2 separate regions of the Homo sapiens genome follow, and region 1 is linked to region 2. The links come from fine-mapping of genetic effects on gene expression. A gene starts in region 2. The other region holds a variant in brackets. All regions are shown on one strand. Distances are from middle to middle.

Region 1 (8,336 bases), 34 kb before region 2:
CTGAGGTGAGCAGATCACTTGAGGTCAGGAATTTGAGACCAGCCTGGCCAACACTGTGCAATCCCTTCTCTATCAAAAAATACAAAAACTAGCCAGGTGCAGTGGCACACACCTGTAGTCCCAGCTACATGGGAGGCTGAGGTGGGAGCATCACTTGAACCCGGGAAGCGGGGGTTGCAGCGAGCCGAGATTGCACCACTGCACTACAGCCTGGGCAGCAGAGTGAGACCCTGTCTCAAATACAAAACAAGACAAAAAAACAAAAAGGAGTTTTCCTGTATGACCATGGGCACTTAAAGTACAGGGTCCAGGAGAAGTCAGTTAACACCAGATCATAACTGTAGCATTTCTTTTGTTTCTGAAAAACTCTCAGATGTTGTGACTTTGCATGATAAGAGGAAGCTGCAAGAAGAAGTCTTGTGCTGGGGAAATAGAAATAGACCACAAGAAATGCTTACTGTCTCAATTAGCGTCAGCTGTCCCAACGCTGACCTAAAAGGAGCCCAATATTAGTCTATTAGGAGACAGGCATGGGGCCGGCCCTCTCTGGCCAAGAATGGATACTATGAAATAAATGTCTGGAACCATTGCACTTCTCTTCTCCCAGATGTCACACCCGCTTCTTGGCAGTCAGGGCTTTGAGCTCATCACATTTGGGTCTGGCCTCATGTGGAAGATGTAATAATACCTACGAAGGACTTTAGGCAAAACATTCTATTTTCAGAATAATAGAAAAGTTCTGATTTGAATGCTGTATGCTAGTTTCTAAATTAGGCATTTTGCACAAAGATATCTAAAAGTCAGCACTAGTCAATTGTGACAGAGTAGGCTTCTGGAAAAATAGAGAAGCAACTTCACTTCTGAGTTGAAAACTTAATTTTTTATATATAGGTATTCCTGCCCTACCTGCCTAGTTTCCTTAAAAAGAAACACATTTCCACTTCATAGCTTCCTTTACCCAACTCTCCGCTTTTCCCTTCTTTAAAATAATGACAACACTATGTGAAATGTGATTTGTTGTCAAAAAGGTGGATGAACAGTTGATTCTTCAAAATATTCATTATACCCTTTACTATGCCCTAACTCTGTGCGGGACATTGGCAAACACTGGGACTGCAATCTGCAAGGATTCTGTAGGCCCTGCCCTTCTGAAATTTAGTTCCCAGAATATTGTTTCTCTACCATTTTTTCATTATTGCCCCCTAAGAAACATTTTTAGACACTCCTTTCCTAACTGCTCCACCATGGAATTTTGATACCACAGATATCGTGTATATATTTATGTACTGTGTCTATATCCATGCATTATACACAGAAATATCAATGGCTTTTTGCTCCCAAGAATCAACTTTCACTCCCTCAGGGGTAATGTTATCCCTGTTAAAAGTGTATATTCTATGGCAGGGCGTGGTGGCTCATGCCTGTGACCCCAGCACTTTGGGAGGCCGAGGCGGGCAGATCACCTGAGGTCAGGAGTTCGAGACCAGCCTGGCTAACATGGTGAAAACCCGGCTCTACTAAAAGTACAAAAATTAGCCGGGCGTGTTGGCACATGCCAGTAGTCCCAGCTACTCTGGAGGCTGAGGCACAAGAATTGCTTGAACCTGGGATGTGGAGGTTGCAGTGAACCAAGATTGCACCACTGCACTCCAGCCTGGGCAACAGAGTGAGACTCTGTCTCAAAAAAAAAAAAAAAAAAAAAGAAAAGAAAAGAAAAAAAATGTGTATGTTCTAGGAGAAAGAAAGAGAATAGGCAAACACATAAGAAAAGTAACTGTGATGAATAAAATGTAGGAAATAAAAAGGGCTGAAAATTAGGGTACGGTTACTTTGGATAGGGATGTACAACCATACACCTGTAGGTAAGCTCCAGGAAGGATGCCCGTAGCTTCCTGGTCTCATTTTCCCTGGAGCCCAGTTAAAGTCCCCCACCTGAAATTGGAAAGGAAAAAAAAGACTAAATATAATTCACTAGAATACAAATAACTTCTGTCTTCCTGTTATTCAAACAAAGTCACATTAAGCCATGTTCCTCCTTTATACAAGCTCTACACCCTAAACAGCAGAGTTGCCAAAAGCTGGACACTCGAGGAATACAATTTTATTGGTCACGTGTTTCTGTGCAACTCTGAATGGGTCATTGTTTCTTAATAAGGATGTGAGGCTATCAAAGTTAAATTTAGCTCACCATGGTTGTGGTGGAACAAAGCCGATATATTTGCATAATGCTCTCCTACATAGGTGTGTTCCAGCAAAATAGTGAAGGCAGCATAATTGAATGCTGAAAGACAATAAAATGTTCTGGCTAAGAGCACTGGAGTCCAGACCACTGTCCACAAACAGGCAGGTCATTTAACTACTCTCTAAGGCTTAGTTTATCCATATGTAAAATGAGAATATTATACTATTATATTGTTTTTTCTTTTGTTTTTTGTTTTGAGATGGAGTCTCCCTCTGTAGTCCCGGCTGGAGTGCAGTGGCGCAATCTCAGCTCACTGCAACCTCTGCCTCCCAGGTTCCAGTGATTCTCCTGCCTCAGCCTCCTGAGTAGCTGAGATTACAGGCACATGCCACCATGCCCGGCTAATTTTTTGTATTTTTAGTTGAGACAGGCTTTCACCATGTTGGCCAGGCTGGTCTCAAACTCCTGACCTCAGGTGATCTGCCCTCCTCGGGCCCACAAAGTGCTGGGATTACAGGCGTGAACCACCGCACCCAGCCTATATTGGGTTGGGTTTTTGTTTTGGTAGTACTTTCTAGTTGTGCTATTTTTTTTAGGGTAAAAAAGGTTAAAATTTGGTTAAATCAAAGCAGGATCTCTGGTATTTAATCATGAGTAATATTTTGCCTAATATGCCTTTTAATTACACCTGGCTTTCAATTACATTTGTTGATTTTTTTTCTAAATTGATCTGTTATTTTATTTAACCCCTTTTGACTGCTAAGTTACATTTTATAAGTGTAGTTTGTACTACCCTTCATCCAGCACTATGAAATGGTGATTTTTTTTTTTTTTTAGAGTTAGTGAATTAATACTAATAGTTCTGCTAACTTTGGTCCTTCCAAAGACTTATACAATTTGAATCCCATAATGTTTCAAATCCAACTCTCTGTCTCCCCAATTCCTCCCTGAATCTGTATCAGCTTTGAGATGCCTATCTTGGTTATTGGCATTGCCATCCTGATACTTTTTTTTTTTTTTTTTTGAGACCGAGTCTCACTCTATCGCCCAGGCTAGAGTGCAGTGGTGTGATCTCAGCTCACTGCAACCTCCGCCTCCAGGGTTCATGTGATTCCCATGACTCAGCCTCCCGAGTAGTTGGGATTACAAGCACCTGCCA[T/C]CATGCCCAGCTAATTTTTGTATTTTTAATAGAGACGGGTGGGCGGGGGGGCGCGGGGTTCACCATGTTGGCCAGACTGGCCTCGAACTCCTGACCTCATGGTCCACCGGCTTCAGCCTCCCAAAGTGCCAGGATTACAAGTGTGAGCCACTGTGCCCAGCCTTTTTTTTTTTTTTTTCTGAGATGGAGTCTCACTCTGTTGCCCAGGTTGGAGTACAATGGCACAATCTTGACTCACTGCAACCTCCGCCTCCTGGGTTCAAGTGATCCTCCTGCCTCAGCCTCGCGAGTAGCTGGGATTACAAACATGGACCACCAGGCCTACTAATTTTTGTATTTTTAGCAGAGATGGGGTTTCACCATCTTGGCCAGGATGGTCTCAAACTCCTGGCCTCAAGAGATCCCCCGCCTTGGCCTCTCAAAGTGCCAGGATTATAGTCATGAGCCACCGCACCCAGCACCATCCTGATAATTATCTATGCTAACCCTCAGGGTCATCACGTCTCATGCACAATCCAATTTCTCACCATGTGTACGCAATATTTCTGTCATGTGTTCCTGCCTCTCCATTCCCTTTCCAAAATCTTTCCAAGTATATTTTCTCAAGAGAGGTACTATTCCTAAATACCAAACATACACTCAAGCATAGTATAAGGGATATTTGTCATGTCTGAGGCCACCTAGCATGTTTAAACACCCTTCCTATGTTTGGAGAATTCCGCATATGATGAGCCCTTTCTCAAGGCAGAAGCTAGGACTGGCTCTCTTACCCTATCTTAGTTAGGATATAGCGATCCAGCCAGGGGCAGATTCCAGTTTTGTAGGGGTTTGACCCTAATACAATTTTGGGGCCTTCTTTTTACAAAGCAACAAAATTACAAATTTAAAATTAGGTTTAAAAATTAACTTCACAATTTGAATGAGAAAAAAAAATCAAAACTACAAATTTTAGGAGATAACCAGTACCATGAACACCACAAATCCAGAAAAACAATGTAATTTTTAAATCAATAATTTGCCTAATGTACCTCTTTAATATTTTTCTTCATTATTTTAACTACATTATTTTAACTCTTTGATTATTAATTCACATGACAATGATTTCATAATTTTTCATATTAAAATATTTTTGTAGAGAAGGGATCTCACTAGCTTGCTCAGGCCGGTCTTGAACTGCTGGCCACAAGTGATCCTCACACTTTGGCCTCCTGAAGTGTTCGGATTACAGGCATGAGCCACCACATCCAGATCTGTGATTTTTTTTTTTTTTTTTTTTTTTAGTATTTATTGATCATTCTTGGGTGTTTCTCGGAGAGGGGGATTTGGCAGGGTCATAGGACAACAGTGGAGGGAAGGTCAGCAGATAAACATGTGAACAAGGGTCTCTGGTTTTCCTAGGCAGAGGACCCTGCGGCCTTCCGCAGTGTTTGTGTCCCTGGGTACTTGAGATTAGGGAGTGGTGATGACTCTTAATGAGCATGCTGCCTTCAAGCATCTGTTTAACAAAGCACATCTTGCACCGCCCTTAATCCATTTAACCCTAAGTGGACACAGCACATGCTTCAGAGAGCACAGGGTTGGGGGTAAGGTTATAGATTAACAGCATCCCAAGACAGAATTTTTCTTAGTACAGAACAAAATGGAGTCTCCTATGTCTACTTCTTTCTACAGAGACACAGTAACAATCTGATCTCTCTTTCTTTTCCCCACATTTCCCCCTTTTCTATTCGACAAAACCGTCATCGTCATCATGGCCCTTTCTCAATGAGCTGTTGGGTACACCTCCCAGACAGGGTGGCGGCCGGGCAGAGGGGCTCCTCACTTCCCAGACGGGATGGCCAGGCAGAGGCGCCCCCCACCTCCTGGACGGGGCAGCGGCCGGGCGGGGGCTGCCCCCCACCTCCCTCCCGGACTGGGTGGCTGGCCGGGCAGGGGTTGCCCCCCACCTCCCTCCCGGACGGGCGGCTGGCTGGGGGGGGGGTGCTGCCCTCCACCTCCCGGACGGGGCGGCTGCCCGGCAAGACGCTCCTCACTTCCCAGATGGGGCGGCTGCCAGGCGGAGGGGCTCCTCACTTCTCAGACGGGGCGGCCGGGCAGAGACGCTCCTCACCTCCCAGATGGGGTGGCGGTCGGGCAGAGACACTCCTCAGATCCCAGACGGGGTCGCGGCCGGGCAGAGGCGCTTCTCACATCCCAGACAGGGCGGCGGGGCAGAGGAGCTCCCCACATCTCAGACGATGGGCGGCCTGGGCAACATTGAGCACTGAGTGAGCGAGACTCCGTCTGCAATCCTGGCACCTCGGGAGGCCCAGGCGGGCAGATCACTCGCGGTCAGGAGCTGGAGACCAGCCTGGCCAACACGGCAAAACCGCGTCTCCACCAAAAAATACAAAAACCGGTCAGGCGTGGCGGCACGCGCCTGCAATCCCAGGCACTGGGCAGGCTGAGGCAGGAGAATCAGGCAGGGAGGTTGCAGTGAGCCCAGATGGCGGCAGTACAGTCCAGCCTCGACTCGGCATCAGAGGGAGACCGTGGAAAGTGCGAGATGAGGGAGCGGCATCAGAGGGAGACCGTGGAAAGTGGGGGGAGAGGGAGAGGGAGAGGGAAAGGGAGAGGGAGACCAATTTTTTTTTTATAAAAAGAAAAAAAGTACTTTAGTCTCCTTTGTCCTATCTGGTCAATTGATTTTTTGATTGACAGTTTAGAAAAGTGTCTTTAAGCTTCACAACTGATGATTGATAATATTGTGTAAATTTAGTGAGGTTGACAGAAGTCAGAATTGCAGGTACAATATTTCTACTGCAAATTTTACAAAAACATAGGACAGACATTTATTCCTAGGGCTCTCCCAGGGCCTTGGAAAGGGTCTGCATAAGTACAGGGCCCTGAGGCTTAAGATTCATTAGCTTTGTGATACATCCATATATTAGTCCGTTTTCATGCTGCTCATAAAGACATACCTGAGACTGGATAATTTATAAAGGAAAAAGGTGTAATTGACTCACAGTTCCACATGGCTGGGGAGGCCTCACAATCATGGCGGAAGAGCAAGGGACCATCTTACATGGCGGCAGGCAAGAAAAGAGTTTGTGCAGGGAAACTTGCCCTTATAAAACCATCAGATCTCATGAGACTTACTCACTATCATGAGAACAGCATGGGAAAGACCTACCCCCATGATTCAATTACTTCCCATTGAGTTCCTCCCATGACACATGGGAATTGTTGGAGCAACAATTCAAAGTGAGATTTGGGTGGGGACAGAGCCAAACCATATCAATTCATCTCTGCATCCTCTTAGGCTTTGCCAATCAGACATGATCATAAAGTTTTCACTTCAGAACTGAACAACCCTAGGAAGCAGGAGCCCTTGTCATCTACCATTTCATAAGAATGACAAGAGAGGCACCAGCTCTGCCAGGCACCGGTGGTGAAATTTCTGGTGTTGGGTCTCCAGAGTTATTGGTGGAGGCTGTGGTGTCTGTACCATGCAGGAGCTGTAGCACCCTCTCGCCTTGAGCAGCCCTCAGAGTGTGACATGGGCATGGATGCTGGCCGCAGAGCCTCTGGACCTTACTCTCCAGACCCCTTGCAGATTCAATGAGGTACCAAATATCCTTATTAAATTCACCTTATTTTTCTGCTTAAATTAGTTATTATAGAATAGTTTCTGCTTGCAACCATGAATCCTGACTGCTACATGTGGAAGTGTGTTCTACAGGACTAAGGCAGAGGCTGAGGCATCATCAGCCTACCTGAGATGATGGAATAATTCAAGGATCGGAAAGTGAATCAAAGCAGAATGCATGGGAGAAAACAGGTGACCAAATACCAGAAAAGTAAGGATGAAAGTCAGATACATGGGCCCATTTAAAGGCAGAAGCCAGAGAGCCAAGAATCTTGATTATTGAATGCAGATGAAGGCAGAGGAGGTTCAGAAAAGGCAAAGTGGGGTAGGTCAAGACCCCATTTGGTAGGCCAGCAGTTGGGTGGTGTATATAAGGATTGAGTGGCCTTAAAAAGGAATAGAAGGCCAGGTACAGGGGCCTCACACATGTAATCACTACACTTTGGGAGGCTGGGGCAGGAGGATCACATAAGCCCAGATGTTTGAGACCAGTCTGGGCAACAAAGGGAGACCCCCATCTCTACAAAAAATTTAAACGTTAGCCAGGTGTTTTGATGCACGCTTGTAGTCCCATCTACTTGGGAGGCTGAGGTGGGAGGATCACTTGAGCCTATGAGGTGGAGGCTGCAGTAAGCCATGATCACACCATTGCACTTCAGCCTGGGTGACAGAGAGAAACCTGTCTCTAAAAAAAAATTAATTTAAATTTAAAAAAAGAGGAATAGAAGAAGGCTGGACAGTACTATAACCCAGACTGTCGTTAGCTCTCTCTTGGAACCATAAAAGCCTTCAACATTCTCCCACCTTATTCTCTGCCCTACACAGTATGTTCTTTACACACAAAAAAAGCTATCTGGGGCCATGATCATTGCCCTACTTTTGAGATATCAATTGTGACTCCCCATTGCCTAGAGAACATCACAGAATTCATTAGCCTGGCATTTCTGACCCTCCCTCATCTAGGTCAATCCATTTATCCAACATATTCCTCATTAACTTTCTCATACTATATGCTAGAGCTGCACTAAACTATTTGGTATTTCCTAGACATGCATTTCATTTTCCCACAAGCATGCTGTTCTTTCTGCCTGGGATGCTCTCCCTGTCACATTTCAGCACATCCAAATCACTCTATTTTCCAAAGCCCAGCTCAAATGTCACATTTCTTCTTCAGCAGCAGTATTTCCTCCCGGAAGCACATTAATTCTCATGTTAATTTTGCTTTCCATATTGCATTACATTTATTCAGGCACATATTTTTATTTCCTCTAAGAACCCAGAAACTCACTTTGAACAGAATCTTGGCACAGTGACTTGTATACTATACTTGCTCAAAATAGTGTTGAACAAAGGGTTGAATGAAACAA
Region 2 (8,329 bases):
AGTTAGGTATATCTTTGCCTTCTTAGCTGGAAATCACATTCCTTGAAGGCAGAGTTTGTGTTTGCTGCAATGAATCTTTCACAGTGTCCAGCATATGAAATCCCTTGTATCTTATATTAGTTTAAACATTTATTGTATTAGTAAAAAAACATATTTACTAATTATTTGAGGGTAGTGGGTGCTTAATCAATGCTTATTTAACCAAATTTTTTTGTACCTAATTTTTTGTGACTTGTGTGCATTTTTTTTATGACCGTGGATGTAGCTGGAAAAGCAAATCAGTTGCCTACTTAAAATACTTCATTAATTGCCTCTTACTTCTAGAACAAGACGTCAAATTACTTCCCTGGCACACAGTGCTCTCCATATTTGAGTGTGGTCTCAGAGCCTGGCCCCTCAAAGACATCCTAGCCTTTTTTTTTTTTTTTTTTGAGATGGAGTCTTACTCTGCCACCCAGGCTGGAGTGCAGTGGCATGATCTTGGCTCACTGCAACCTCTGCTTCCCGGGTTCAAGTGATTCTCCTGCCTCAGCCTCCCAAGTAGCTGGGATTACAGGCACCCACCACCATGCCTGGCTAATTTTTGTATTTTTAGTAGAGATAGGGTTTCGCCATGTTGACCAGGCTGGTCTTGAACTCCTGACCTCAGGTGATCTGCCCGCCTTGGCCTCCCAAAGTATTGGGATTACAGGCGTGAACTACCACGCCCATCCTGGGCTTTGGATTGTATACCTGCCTATTGTCCTGGCTACCTGACTACCCTTCCTTGTCCTTACTGAGAATTCCAATGTACCCTCGAGAGACTCCCCAATCCTTTCTCTTTTAAGGGCAAGGACTTTATTTCTATCTCTATATTTATCATCCAGAAGCTGCTCATTTGTAATGGGTGATCAGAAAAACATCTGTTGAGTTGAATAAATGTGTACTTGTGACTGGAAATTATTTACATAATACCATGTGTATAATTTAACTGCCTGATATTTGAAAATGCAAATGTATTTGTTATTTGAGATTACTTAAAATATGTGACCCTTCAAAAGGAGCTAGCTTTAATATTTGGGAGGAGTAATGCTTCTTGAAAGATATTCCCTTTAAAGGCCTATGAGTCTCCTATGACTTGCCTATCAAATGCCAGCTTTATGACACTAGCATCTGAATAAAGTGCAAATAACACCATTAAAAAGGTCCTTGCAGTTGGCAAGTGGTGATTCATTTAGATGGGTCATCATGTTTTTAATTAACTCTTTCTTAGTATGCAATAATGAAAAGTGCTTAGAGTGGTCATAGGCCTGAGGACATCCCCCAAGTTGCTAGTCGAGGAACAGTATTTTGTTGCAAGCTGAATGGGCCACCAGTTTGAGCAGGGGGATTTTTCAGCTTCAATGATCTCACAGTATAGGCATTCTGATTGAGGTTATTATTTCCTACAATTGTTTTCTAAAGAATGATTTTTAAAATGCAGATTATACATTGATGTAATTTGGGCTTAAGTTTACAGTAAATTAGCCAGGCCAAAACAAGGTAGCAGTAAGAAAACTTCCCAGGAAACCTAGTACTTTTGAATGAGAATAAAGAAAAAATAATTAGTCACAAGATTTTAGCTAAATGAGTGCTTTAAAAATAATATAATTTAGTTAACACTTATTTTTCTTTAGCATAATCTTCTTGGTTATAATAGTTTTTACCAAAAGGAAAGAAGGCAGATGCTTTTTTAAAATATAGATATCTTCAGATAAATTCCTAAGAAAACTTCAGGAAGAAATCATGGCAGTTTAGCATGAATTACGTTGGTCTGAAATTGTGTCATTCACACAGAACTGTAGTGCTCTCCTTGATATCAGATCAACATGTTTAGTACTTGGCAGAAAAAAAGAAAGTGAATGATTAGAGTGGTGTTAGTCCATTTGTACTGGAATACAAAGAAGAATAAGGACAGATGGACAGAAACAAACCTAATCCAGTATAAAGGTAACAATAAAATAAAGGGAAAAGTAAAAGATAATTTGTTTTTAGATTAAAGGAATTTAAATTTAATATATGTGGTAAGTAGAAATTATCTTCTCACCATATTTTCTCTCATTCAACTAATAATTATTGCCAGGGAACGCAATGTTTTGAGCTGCAGACGGTGGTAGCCATATAAAAACGTATAAAACATACTGCCATACCTTGAAGGCCTCTTATAGCTGAGAAGGTAAGATTTAAAGGATGAAAAGAGCTTAAAGGAATAATTAATAACTAATATTTGCATAGCATTCAAAAGTTTAGAAGGTATTTTTACATACCATTTTGTAAGTTTAAAAGTAAATTGCTAGATTTCATTCTTCTGTTAGAATTTCCTTTGGCTTTGTCTTTGGAAAACAACATTAAATTTGGGATTGCGATTACTTCTTAGATTTACTTCAGTTTTCTCAACCATTCTTAGGGGTTCTATTCCCTGATCCTTCCAATTTCTATGATTTGTCATCTCATCATTACCTCAATGGATAATGCCTCTGAATTTGCAAAGTGAATTTAACTTTTAAACTTGTAAAATACGTACATTAATTATGGCAATAACTGATGCTAGAATTTTTTTTTTTTTTTTTTTTGAGACAGGGTCTCACTCTGTCATCCAGGCTGGGTGGAGTGCAGTGGCAGGATCACAGTTCACTGCAGCCTCGACGGCCCTGGACTCAGGTGATCCTCTCACTTCCGCCTCCCAAGTAGTTGAGACCGCAGGCCTGTGCCACCATACCTGGGCTAATTTTTGTATTTTTTTTTTTTTTTTTTTTGTAGAGATGGAGTCTTGCTATGTTGCCCAGGCTGGTCTCAAACTCCTGGGTTCAAGTGCTCCTCCTCCCTTGGCCTCCCAAATTGCTGGGATTACAAGTGTGAAGATCCTGGAATTTCTAGGACATAAATGATTGTAAATGTTTTATCTTGTTGTCAGATCATGTGACCTGACTTCTCAGAAAATATCTACCTTATCTGTGGCCTCCACTTCCTTATCATTCAATTGATAAAACCTTTAATCTGAATTTTCTATTATATATATATTCTGAATATGTAGTTATATATTATATATTCTATTATATATATTCTGAAATTATATTTTCAAAGATGCCCTTATTATCAAATCTGATAGTCTTTATTCCCCCTTCTGTTTTACTTAACTTCTTTTCCATTCTATTCATTGGCCTTTCTTCTTTAAATATTAAGGATTCTAGAGACCTAGAAATTTAGTCTCTAGAAACTTAAGGGCTCTGGGCCTTGAATTTACTACCTATGTATGTGCTTCCAATAGCTTATATTTTTGTCTCCTTTCATGAATCCTTCTTAGCCCATCACCAGCCTCATTCTTCCAAATCGTAAATGGCCTTCCTTATGGGCTGCTTGAGCCACACACATTTCTTAAAGGCTCAGAAATACTCTGTTTGCATATCCACTTCCATTCCTCAGTTCTAGGACTCCTCCAGACTGAATTATTGCCTTCCCCAAGCTTTCGTTCAACTCATACCTTCTCTTTACAGCTTGCTTTGCCCACAGTAATTTATTTTCCTTTAAATTCTCAAGCATTTGACCCTCACTACCTCATACTGTTAATTAACTTTGTGTTCGTATCTCACCCCCCTAGAAGAATGCAAAATCTCTGAGGATTAGCGCTGTACTTTAGCTTTTTATTTTTTTGCTTGGTAGGGGACAACGAACATAATGCTGAACACATATTTGTTACCTAAAAAAGGCACATGTTCCATGATGTCAATGTAATCTTGTTTAGGTGAGTATATTCAACTTTTTTCTTTTATCCTTTTTGGCTGCTGTTTGTGAGTTTGATCATTCTTGTTATAAAATTACCACATGTAACCTTTTGAGAAGCATTAGAAGAATTAAAAGATGGCAAAAGCAGGCCTATAGGAAATAGTGGTAATGGATACGTCCAAGGTTACTACTATGGGCCACTGTGCTCTGCATTGCAAGATTTGTTTGAACATACTCAAGAAATTGAAGTTCAGACAGGTTAATTTATCCAAGGTCCCACAAAAAGTAAATGGCTGTGCTGAGTTTCAAGGACCCATGTCTGCCTGGATCCAAAGGGCAAGTCAGTTTCAGTGCTGGATGACTGAGAATTACAAAATTTCTTGAAAAAGCACTAGGCACAATAGTTGGCGTTCAACAAACGCTCACACACACATCTGCCCTGGAATTGGGTCTACTTAAACAGAAGGGGGAAAAAAAGCTTGCTGAAATAATTATACTTCTTCGTAACTACCAAGCTCATGTTTGACTGACTATAGTAATCCTATGCCCTCCTTCACATTGACGCTAGAAAAAATGCCTGGCAGTATTTCAAATCATGATGCCTATTTTTCTCTCGATCAAGTAACAACTCAAATTATACTTTAAAAAGAAAAAAAGCAAATTATAAAGTTGCATTCAGCTGACAAGAGACTAAAGGAATCTGTGAAACAGAATTTATTTGATGCCTAGGTTTCTCCCTCACCCGACGAAGACCAAATGCTGCTGATCCGTAAGTAACTTCGCAAGGTAAACTGAGGGGCCTGGCAGCATCTGGGCCTCCCTTAAAGGTCGAAATCAAGTGCGCTCGCCCTCCTTCTGTCCGCCTTTTCCCTTTAAGGTCCTCGAGGCTGCTTCGCTGCAGAAAGTAACTCCGCGTCGCCGCCGCGGAAAGTGGGGCAACTTTGCCTATCAGCAGAAACCTTTTGATCCATCTGAGGCGACAAACCAGACCAAACGCCCGCCCAAGCTGTTCCGAGCCTCCGGGGGGAGAGCGAGCCCAAGCTCCTCTGCACCGCTTCCTCATCCGCTCGCTGCACCTGGACGCGGTCGGCGCGCGACCCCCGGCCGTGACGTCACCGCACCTGGCAGCAGCCGTGGGGACCGGGAGAGAGCCCGAACGCGACGGGGCGGGGTGGGGCGGGGAGAACGAGGGCGTTCTCGCGAGATTTGCCTCCTCCCGGTCCCAGCTCCCCGCACCTTCTCGGCCTCTGTCTGGGTCCCCACCTTAGTCTACGGTGTCGCCTTTTCTAACTGCGAGTGCTAAGGAAGAGGCGAGGGGCGGGCTCCGAGGCTAGGCGGGCGCTCGGGGTTGGAGCCGAGGGTCTGGGCAAACCGGTGGGTCCCTCCCCACTGCGGGAGCGGCCAGGGTGGGAAAACCGCGGTCGGGCGGGCGGGGTAGGGCCCTCCCGCCGCCGTGGCTCCTGGGGAGGCCAGGGGTGAGGAGCTGTCGCCGCCTTTGCCTCTGCCTCGAGGGCCGCGCTGAAGAGACTGGTAGGAGAGCGCCGCGGGCGGATGGAGGCGACTCTTCGCCCCGCCTGAGCTCAGGAGGGGCTAGCGCGGAGCGCGGGTCCCGCCTCCAGCCGCGGGAGCGGCCGCGCGAGCCACCACTGGAGGAGGAGGAGGAGGAGCGGACGTCGGCTTCTCCCCGCGGGAGCCCCCAGCATGGGTAAGAGACTCGGGCGCTTCCCGCCGCCCGTCCGGACCTTCCAGACCCGGGGAGGCTGTGCCCTTTCTCGGCCTTCTGGGGAGGCGACTGCGGTCAGCCCCTGAGCGGCAGCACCCCACCCTCTCCATTCTCCCCACCGCCCCTTCTTGCCCTGCCTTCCACCTTGCTCTTCTCACGGAGAAACTGGTGGGAGAGCTCGCGGGTGCTTTCCCTCGCTCTCCCTTCTCCGCCTCTTTTCCTGTTCACCAGAAAGGTGCGGGATGGGGGGCGGGGGCGCCTGGCCACCTCTGCTAACCCCTTGCCCAGCTAAAATCAGACCTGACCTTCCTTCCCTTCCTCATCCCCTTGCTTCCCTCCCCCTCCTCGTGGGATGGGGGAGGGCGATCGAAAAACTTGATAAAGTAGCACTTTCAACTTCTTTATTTTCTGCGAGGCTTTGAATACGTTTAAGGAGAGAGATAAATTTGTTCAAAAACTTTTTTTTTTTCCTGCTGAAACTCGCAAGGGGTGCCTCAAGGACAGGAAAGCTTGAGTATTTGTTTTACTCGGGTTCTACCTAGGCAAGTGTGTTGGCACCTAAGCATTCAGTGTGCTCCCGAGGACTGGGTTTGGACTTCAGTGTTGGATCCTTTGAGGAGCAGTTTCCTGTTTGGAGTTAGACTTCCTTGCCGGAGGAGAGAAAAATACAAGGCCTTATATGTTATTTACTATGTGCTTTATAGTTTTGTTTGAAGTTAGAGAAGGCAGAATGTGTGGCAGTCCGGGTTGAAAAGGAGTTTTGTTAAGTGGTGTAACAATTTCTTTTGATAACAAAGTTCGGTGTGGGCTAGGCATTAAACTAACTCCCTCAATCCTTTAAAAATTAAAAGCAACTTAAGAATAGCTTACAAAAAACAAAACACCCTGTGTCTCTATAAGGCAGAACGTGTTCTGTAAGAGTAAACCCAAGTTTGATTTTTGTAGAGCAAATCAGGAGGACCCTATCACTTTTTGCAGTTGAGAGTTGGTACTGCTTCATATCAACAAACGATCACCGAAATGAATAATTCATGTAATTAACAAATGATTTAGAAGCAGGACGAATACAGACTACTGCTGATGTGGCACCCTCTGTCCACACTTTGCTTTGTGGGGGATGTTTTGAGCATATTGTTTATAGACACTCGCCTAGCTATCCTCTGTTTTCTTAGACTTTTCTAATTTTATGTTCCCTTCTCCACCTCCCTCCTTTCAGGTAACTTTCATACTCAAAAGTGCTCTTGAGCTCAAAAACAGTGAAATAAAACATTTGCTATTTGGAATTTTCAAATGAATTATTTTATAATTGATTAGTTGAGCTTGCAGGGCAATTGTGGGCATATTCTTTTAAGTATGAAATTATAAAATCACTTTAACTGCTTTGGATTAAGATAATACTAAAGTTAATTACACAGTTCTTTTCTGTCTTAAATGGGATGCAGAATAAAATTAAACTACTTTGGATGACCTGGGGATGCAGTCTTGTTTTGCATATAGGGCTTTTGAGCTAAATTCTAAATAATATTTGTTCGCATTTTGAAATTATTTAAATACTTTTTTTTTTTGCTTTGCTTTTGGATGTGCTTGTAACTGATTAGTGTCCCCCATCATCTTTCCTTTTCTAATTTTTTTTTAGAAGTGTGGAAATCATATTCAGGTTTGTGATTCTGCATAGGGGAAAAATCAGTAGGCCGTTACTTAGTGTGTGAGGTCGTCTCTGGAGAAAAGTAAATGTGTACCAATACTTGGACATTGGAATACCTATTTTGATTGTCCAGAGGCTTTTTCTTTGTGATTTATTTGTTGTGTTCTGTTTAGGTGAGTTTTCATATAGACTTGGATATCAATGTTGGTATACTCTCGACTACTTAGAATGTGTTTTGAAGGTATGTTACTGAGGGCATTTGTGGTTAAGTTTTTGTAAAGTGTTTGTGAAACATTTCCATATCAATATATATATTCTTTAAGTTTATTGGTCATGTAATAATAAAATTCCCAAGTTCACTTAAAGGGAGTTTGCTCTTTAATATAAATCTCATTTATTTGGTTTTACCAGCCATCCTTTTTTCTTATGATTTTAGATGCAGCCTAAAATATTTACATGATATTTTATCTAATTTGTCACAAAATGAAAAAATCTGAAATTTTTTTTGTGTGTAAGATAATTTGGATGCCTATTAAATGGTGGTTCTTAAGTTTAGGTGGTACAGCTAGAGAGTTAAAAGCATGGGCTCTGGACAGAGACTACTTGAGGTCAAATTCTCTTCTACCTACTGGCTGTGTGACTGAGCACATTACTTCTCTGTGCTTCAGTTTCTCAATCTATAAATGGAATAAAATATCAACCTCATAGGTTGTTAGGAGGATTGAATGAGTTACTACTTGTAAAGTGCTTAGAACACTGCCAGTGCTGGCGGTGGTGATTTTCATTTTCAAATGATTTCCCTAATTCTTGTACCAACTTGGGAAAAAAAAAATCTCAATTTTTGACCTTTGTTAGAAGTAGGATATTTTCTTTAAATAAAGGACCAGAGGGATGAGATGATTTTGCACTAAGGCAGAAATTGAATTTTATGTGATATAACCTTACAGAAACCACATAGATACTTTTTTCAATGTTGGATGTACTGTGCGAAAGTCCATTATTGGTAAGAGCTTTAGTTGCTTAGGAAAAACTCTTAAGTGGGATGACTACTAGTAGACTTATTTGAAGTTTATGTTTTTAGTGTCTACATTTGTTAAATGTGATAAAATGCCTATTGAGAAGTTTGAGGTATTCTGTGTGAAAGAATTTGGGAAGAGCTCTAGGGAGACAGATAGGCAGTGCTTATTTTTCTTATTCCAAAAATACAGATCGGCATTTTG

Which allele goes with the higher level. Alleles are on the strand shown, and positions count from the first base shown. SD is a standard deviation of normalised expression in the study named.
In carriers of allele C in region 1, the expression in iPS cells of the gene that starts at base 4,987 in region 2 tends to be lower than with T alone (moderate effect, 0.51 SD a copy in HipSci).

The links. PIP is the estimated chance that this variant, and not a neighbour inherited with it, causes the effect. A credible set is the group of variants that fine-mapping cannot tell apart.
Region 1: its variant is the best candidate, but not a certain one, in a credible set for the expression of CD2AP in iPS cells (HipSci, PIP 0.58).

The regions. Positions count from the first base shown.
Region 1 is chr6:47,438,751-47,447,086 of GRCh38, forward strand. No RefSeq gene overlaps it. Among named protein-coding and RNA genes, the nearest start is that of CD2AP, 35 kb to the right of the region's middle. RefSeq lists an enhancer at 5,265-5,998 and a silencer at 8,243-8,336. The variant T/C (reference allele first, on the strand shown) is at 3,342.
Region 2 is chr6:47,472,803-47,481,131 of GRCh38, forward strand. CD2AP (CD2 associated protein) reads left to right here and starts at 4,987. Exons shown (of 18, transcript NM_012120.3): 1 at 4,987-5,446. The coding sequence starts at 5,443. CD2AP-DT (CD2AP divergent transcript) reads right to left here and starts at 5,270. Exons shown (of 1, transcript NR_187257.1): 1 at 4,441-5,270. RefSeq lists a silencer at 4,749-5,258 and an enhancer at 5,545-6,271.